Linked DNA regions of Homo sapiens. The gene in region 2 interacts genetically with the main gene of each other region. Each region holds a gene or a part of one and is shown on either strand. Other genes may lie near its edges. The genes, in order: MYLK2 and MYLK.

The links.
Region 1: changes in MYLK (region 2) and MYLK2 together harm fitness more than expected from each alone (negative genetic interaction), as found in Homo sapiens cells (one large-scale study listed by BioGRID).

What each region holds. Positions count from the first base shown.
Region 1 is NC_000020.11:31,831,963-31,835,190, reverse strand, and holds the end of MYLK2 (myosin light chain kinase 2, skeletal/cardiac muscle), read right to left. Parts: intron 3,188-3,228; coding exon 3,055-3,187; intron 1,475-3,054; coding exon 1,394-1,474; 3' UTR 507-1,393; downstream 1-506. UniProt on the Homo sapiens protein: Implicated in the level of global muscle contraction and cardiac function. Phosphorylates a specific serine in the N-terminus of a myosin light chain.
Region 2 is NC_000003.12:123,702,546-123,706,358, forward strand, and holds part of MYLK (myosin light chain kinase, smooth muscle), read right to left. Parts: intron 1,465-3,813; exon of another isoform or gene 1,321-1,464; intron 1-1,320. UniProt on the Homo sapiens protein: Calcium/calmodulin-dependent myosin light chain kinase implicated in smooth muscle contraction via phosphorylation of myosin light chains (MLC). Also regulates actin-myosin interaction through a non-kinase activity.

The DNA.
Region 1 (3,228 bases), on a different chromosome or scaffold from region 2:
GCCCACTCTCTCTGGCTCAGTTTCTCCCTCTGTAAAACAGGAATAATAATACCTGCCTCATGAGAATCACCTGAAGCCGGGAGGCGGAGGTTGCGTGCAGTGAGCATAGATCACACCACTGTACTCCAGCCTGGACGACAGAGTGAGACTCCATCATAAATCAATCAATCAACCAATCAATCCTGCCTCGTAACTTTGCTGTGAGGAGTAAATGAGTTAACACAGCACAGGCGCTTTAAGTAAAGCTGGGCACGCAGTAATCACACACCCGGTGTAGGCTGTTGCTGCGACCTCCCTCTCACAGGTGAGGATACTGAGGCACAACGTGCAGAAGCCACCTGCCCACATCATGTGCTGGGCAGACTGGCACCTGAGCCTGCATGAACCACCAAACTGTGAGCTGACGGATATTGCTAAAGTGTCCGGTACACAGTAGGTGCTCAGTGAACTGTGGTCATCAGCGACCTCACACCAGTGCAGGCACACACAGAGGGAAGGAGGCCACATCCAACCTGTACATTTATTTACAAGGCACAAGCTGAGAGCAGACTGGAGGCTGCCCCATGGCCTTCCTAATTCTCCTGGGCCTGCTGACCCCATCATCTGAGGCCATGGGTGACCCCCAAGATGGGGGCCCCGAGTGGTTGGGTTGGGCCGGCTTGGCCCTGAGGCAAGCTCGGGGGTGGTCTCCTGTGTCCCTTGGCTTCTCCCCTCCCCCTCCACCAGGCCTGGGCTGGGCGCCCTCTCTCTCACACAGAGTTCCTGTGTGTTGGTGGTCGCAAGGAAGGTGGGTGGGGGCCAGCCTGGGCCAGATGGTGTGGGCTCGGCCTTATCTGCTGGAGTGGGGAGGTGGCGGGGGCATGGAGGTCCTCTCTCACAAAGCCTGCTCTGTCTTCCCTGGCAGCTGGGCCTTAGGAATCAGCGTTGCAGCCTTTCTGCCCCACCAGGAGCCTCCCATCCACAACCACAGAAGCCCTACATGCTGAGACCCCCCAGCCATGGCACTCCAGCTAGGAGGAGGCCCAGGCTAAGGACTCTCCCAGTGGGGCAAAGCAGGGGTCACCACGGCGGCGGCAGTTCAAAGACGAGGAGCTGGGGAGGGAACCGGGAGCGGCTTCAACGGGGGCCTGGAGTCTGGGGTGTGGCCGACAGGCTGGAGCCCTGTCTGGGGAGGTGCTAGCAGGATGGATCCAGGCCACACTCCGAGGCGGCTCACATCGGGGAAGCGGTCACTGCATGGGGGCGTGGGGAGCCCCGAGCCTCCCAGCCTGGCACAGCCTTGTCCTAACGAGGCTGCCCTGGGGATCTGGCTGCCTTTTCTGGCCTTCTGGGCTGTGTGGCTTCAGCCCCGGCCACTGTGTGGCTGCGTCCAGGCTTCAGCTGCGCCCAGGGCTCAGACCCCCAGAGCCATCAGTGCCCCCGAGCTGCTGATCTTCTTGAAGCGGTTGGCAGCGCTGACAGCAATGAAGTTTTTCTAGAGGGCAGAAGAGAGGGAGTCCCAGTCAACACCAGGGCAGGGGGGCAGCTGCAGGGTGTCTGAGCAGCCTGTAAGTCCCCTTCAGTCCAGGAGGGTCACAGGCTAGAGAAGGTGCAGTGCCCAAAATGGCCACGGGAGGCGCCATGACACTGTATTGTCCAGGAGTCCCCTCACTCAACGGATAGGTCAGCCAGACCTGAACCAAGGACCGCTCTGCTCCAAACACTCCCATGGCTCCAGTTTTGCTCCAAGTAAAAGATAAACCCCTTGCCATGGCCGATGAGTCCCTCCAACTCCTGTCCCCCTCTTCCTCTCTAACTTCATTCCTTACCTCCTTGCTCACTCCACTCCATCCATACTGGCCTCCTACCTGTTCCTCAAACTCTCCAACCACACCTCTGCCTCAGGGCCTTTGCACTGGCTACTCCCTCTGCCCGGAATACTCTTCTCCCAGTATTGGCACGGCTCACCCCTCCCCACCTTCAGGTCTTTGTTCACATGCTTCTCAGTGAGCCCTTCCTGACCCCCCCTATTTAGAAGTGCAGGCTGGGCACAGTGGCTCACACCTGTAATCCCAACACTTCGAGAGGCCAAGGCGGGAGGATTGCTTGCCTGAGCAACATGGCGAGACCTCATCTCCACAAAAATATTTTTAAAATATTAACTGGATGTGGTGGCATATGTCTGTGGTCCCAGCTATTCAGGAGGCCAAAGGAGAGGATCACTTGAGCCCAGAAGGTCAAGACTACAGTGAGCCATGATAGCGCCACTGCACTCCAGCTGGGGAGGCAGAGTGAGACCCTGTCTCTAAAAAAAATAAAAATAAAAGTGCAACCTCTCCCCGGCAGAAGGCCCTTATTTTTTTTCTAAAGTCTTCTTTAACCCTGCCTATTTCCACAGGGCTCTAGAAAATGCCCCACCTCAGCCAGGCACAGTGGCTCACGCCTGTAATCCCAGCACTTTGGGAGGCGGAGGCAGGTGGATCACGAGGTCAGGAGTTCAAGACCAGCCTGGCCAACATGGTGAAACCCCGTCTCCACTAAAAATACAAAAATTAGCCAGGTGTGATGGTGGGTGCCTGTAATCCCAGCTACTTGGAAGGCTGAGGCAGGAGAATTGCTTGAACCTGGGAGGCAGAGGTTGCAGTGGGCCGAGATCACGCCATTGTACCCCAGCCTGGGTGACAGAGCAAGACTGTATTGAAAGAAAGAAAAAAAGATAGAAAATGCCCCATCTCTCACCAAAAGTAACTCCACAAAGACTGAGATCTTTGTCTCTTTTGTCCACTCCTATATCCCAATGCCTAGAAGTAGTAGATGCTCAAGAAATATTTGAAAAATGAAGGAGGGAAGCCAGAGCCCCAGATGGGTGGGGCTGGGTGGAAGGCCGGGTAGAGGTCTCCACTCTAGGACAGGAGCCAGCCCAGGGCAAAAACAGAAAAGTCAACCCTGTCTTCCGGACAGGGCCCAGCCTGGTCAACAGAACCTGCCAAGGCAGGGACGGTGGAGGCTGGGATCTGGCACCAGGAGCTCTTCCCACTAGCAAGCCCTCCCTCCCCACCCTGAATCCAGCGGTACCTTCCAGCGCCTCTTCATGAGGTATTTCTTAAGCAAGATCTGGGACTTAAGGCGTCGGTTACAGCGTTTGGCTTTCTCCGCCAGGTTGTTGAGCCAGGGATGGGCGAGACACTGGGCAGCGTTCATCCGGGCCCTGGGGGAGAGGCAGCATGGTGACGGTGGGCTGCATGCTCG
Region 2 (3,813 bases):
GTGGCCGTCTCACTAGCACTCAGACCCAATAGCAGATGTGCCAAGCTCTGTGACAGATTCTTTACATGAGCCATCTCATTTAATCTTAGAACAGCTCTGTGAGATTAGAGTCACCACTGTTTTTATAAGGTAAGAAATATGAGGCTTATAAAGGTAAAGTAGTCCAGGCGCAGTGGTTCATGCCTGTAATCCCAGCACTTTGGGAGGCTGAAGTGGGAGGATTGCTTGAGCTCGCACGTTTGACACCAGCTTGGGCAACATAGCAAGACCTTACCTCTATTAAAAAATATAATACTGAAGGTCAAGGTTAAGTAATTTGCCTAAACACACAGAGCTTGCTAGTGGAGGGAGGGGTTGGGACCTGTGACCCTATGACCTTTGCACTCTACCCTACTGTGCTTATCAGTACAAATCTGGTCTGGGACATGTGTGTGTTCATGCACATATGTAGTTATCAACCATACACATGATGTACACATATACTGGTCTAGCTGGCAGGCACCTGCACCTGGAGGTCTGTGTTTGGGAATATGTGCACATATGAGTTACATCCACCTGGACAGGCATCTGAGCATGCGTTCTTGTGTATTCTGCTGGCGTGTGTGGGTCTCCACCTCACTCTGCCTGGCCTCCCTCCCAGTGGACAGACACTGGTAGCCCATGGCCTGGCCCAGGATTCTCAGGGGCTCTGGGGCGCTGCTCACCCTTGGGTGCTGGCACCCATTTGAAGCAAGGAGAAGCCAATCGTTGCTGTCCTCCAGCCCTCCTCCCGCCTGCTGGGCTCCTCTCCTTTGTCCTTCTCTCCAGTGCCCTCGTGCTGTCCCAGGCTGTGCTGGTGCAGGTGCCTTCCTGACTGCCTTAGCTCTTTCACTCCTCTCTCCTCCCTGGCCATGTATCCCATAGCCTGTCCCCTCCCAGCCACCCTCCTCAATGCTCAGACTGTCAGAGGGCACAGATTCAAGGTGCAGGGAGTCTCAAGTCTGGAGAATTTTGAGTTCAGGTTGTTCCTTTGCTCAACAAACAGCAATTAGAAACCTCATGGGTGCCAGGCCCTGGGAGAACGAAGAGGTCCTCAGTGTGCCCCGAGTTCTCAACACTTAAAAAGGCTTATGGACTTTGGGTGAGCTTGTAGAATAACTGTGTGAGGTCACCCTGCTTCTGCCAGGCTGCTGGCCAGTGTCAGGCCACTCTTTTCCTACCTTTAAGCACAGCCTTGTGGTGCCTGGGTTGACATGGAGCAGGAAGATGAGATGCCCAAGGGCTGTGTTTGCCTGGCAGCCCTTTCAGCATCTCCTCAGCAGAGTTTCCTCCTGTCACCAGTAGAACACAGCCCAGATGCAAACATCAGGAGCAGACACTGCCCAGATGGCGGCTTTACCCCAGCTGGACTCCTCTGAGGCTTTGGTGGTGGACAGCCCTGTGCCGCAAGCTGGAGTAAGCCGATTCTCCCCATGGGGGAAGCAGGTAAGGGCTTCTGTCACTTTCCATGACCTGTGCTCAAGGTGGGGAGCACAGACTCAGACAAGCCTCTCAAGGGCTCCTGTCCAATCCAGCCCCAGGCCTTACCCTGTGGCCCCCAGCAGTCTAAGGGGTCAGAGAAAGGTGGAGGACTTGGGATACAAAGGCTGACGCATTAAGTGGATCACCTGGTGGCAGGGCAATAGCAGTAACTATTCCTACAGCCATACCCTTAAATCTCTGCTGGGCCTTTAAAGCAAACCATGGGTTCATTTGCAGCCTATAAAGTTCATAGTGGCCTCCTGCCTGGGACCCACATGTCAGATCACCTAAGCTGCTGGAACAGGGTCTTGGGGCCATCTTTGACATCTGCACATAACCAGTTACAAAATCAGGGCCGGGGCTGAAGATGAGGCCCCATCCCAGGAGCTGCCACAGAGCATATGGGGCTATCATCCTATAAACTGAACCTTTCACAAAGAGTCCTTTTGCCTTGGCTTACTAAGCTCTGAATAAGAGTTCCACTCTGGTTACAAAGCCTTGGATCCTGTCCCACCCTGAATCATCTACCTCTTGGATGGGTTCTATATGGAAAAATTACTTTAAAGAACTAATTTCGGCCGGGCATGGTGGCTCACACCTGTAATCCCAGCACTTTGGGAGGCTGAGGTGGGCGAATCATGAGGTCAGGAGATTGAGACCATCCTGGCTAACACAGTGAAACCCCGTCTCTACTAAAAATACAAAAAAAAAAAAAAAAAAAAAAATTAGCCGGGCGTGGTGGTAGGCACCTGTAGTCCCAGCTACTCAGGAGGCTGAGGCAGGAGAATGGCGTGAACCCGGGAGGTGGAGCTTGCAGTGAGCCAAGATCGTGCCACTGCACTCCAGCCTGGGCGACAGAGTGAGATTCTGTCAAAAAATAAAAAATAAATAAAAAAGAACTAATTTCCTGGCAAGTGTCAAGTGTTTCAAGTATTCCAGCTGGAATTTTGAGCTGACTTTTTGTCATTTCCCCTTTTGGTACAGTAGACAAGAGCTAGGAAGGGAAGAGAGGCAGAAACTACCCACCCATACCTGCCTCACAATCCTAGCAGGGACAGGCAGGATCTGCCCACCCCTCTACCCCCTGCACACCGGACCCCCGGCTTCCTCCCAGCCATCCAGTCATTCCCCTCGAAAGGCACCCTGCTCTACGTCTAGGTTGCTGGAGGAGTGAGGTCTCTGGCAGGCCTGCCACGTACCCTCAGGAAACTCTCCACTGACTTGCTTCTTCTCAGGTGGGGAAAAAGCCAAGGCCAGGGCAGTGGCCTCCGAAAGGAATGAAGAGGCTGGACTTTGGGGAAGAAAAAGAGGCAAAGGCTGCAGGCTGGAGGCTCCAGTGTGGTTTCCCAGGTCCTTCCAGTTCCCTGTGCACTTGGGAGAAACTCCCCAAGCAGAGCCATAAGGAATGGAAGAGCATCTGATTTAAGTCAAAAGATGAGGGCTTGAACTTGGGCTCTGTTACTTGCCTTTGGATGGCCACAAGCAAGTCCACGACCCTGAGACCTCAGTGTCCCCCGTTATTAAATGACGATGAGGCTGGATAACTTCTGAAGCCCCTTCCTGCTGGGACAGTCTAAATTTTATGACTGTCCCCAGCTGGCCCCAGACAGTCTGCCTGCCGACCTCCTGGTGCACGCCTCCTCTCTGGCCTGGCAAACTTCCCACAGCCCTTTGCTTGGCTCTGCCCCCACCCCACCCTTTCTTGCTCGGCCTACTCAACAGCTAAGCCTTATCACATTTGCCAAGATTCAGCCTTCCTTTTCCATCAAAATCCCCAAACAAGCTCATCTCCTCTAGGATGTCTGGCTTGAGTAATGTAAGTATTATCTCAAAGTGCTACTCCTTCTATACTGACGAGATCATCAGCAGGTATTTTTACACATCATCGGTTTCCATTCTTTGTACTGACCTAGGGGGTAAGCGTGTACCTTCTCCCCATTTTGGAGGCAGAGTGGCCTTCCTGGTAATAACTAGTTCAAGCATAATGCAAAGGCAGTTGATGCATTCTGAGTGTACCGCTAATAATAGTAGGGGGACCAGCAGCTCACAAGCATCCCATCACTTGACCACAACAGACATGTCATTGAGCTCAGCTGAGATTAGCCTTGCCTAAATCAGCAGAACTTTATAGGAGACCCAAAGACTCCTAAGAAATAATGAAACTGCTTTAAAAATAAACGAGCTATTTTTAATAGTTATTAAGTATTGGGGTGGTTCGTTATGCAGCAAAAGATAACTGATTCAGGTATAAAGCACATGGTCACAAAGGACCTAAGGGGATGGGGTACATATTGGGTTTTGCAGTAGCCTTGG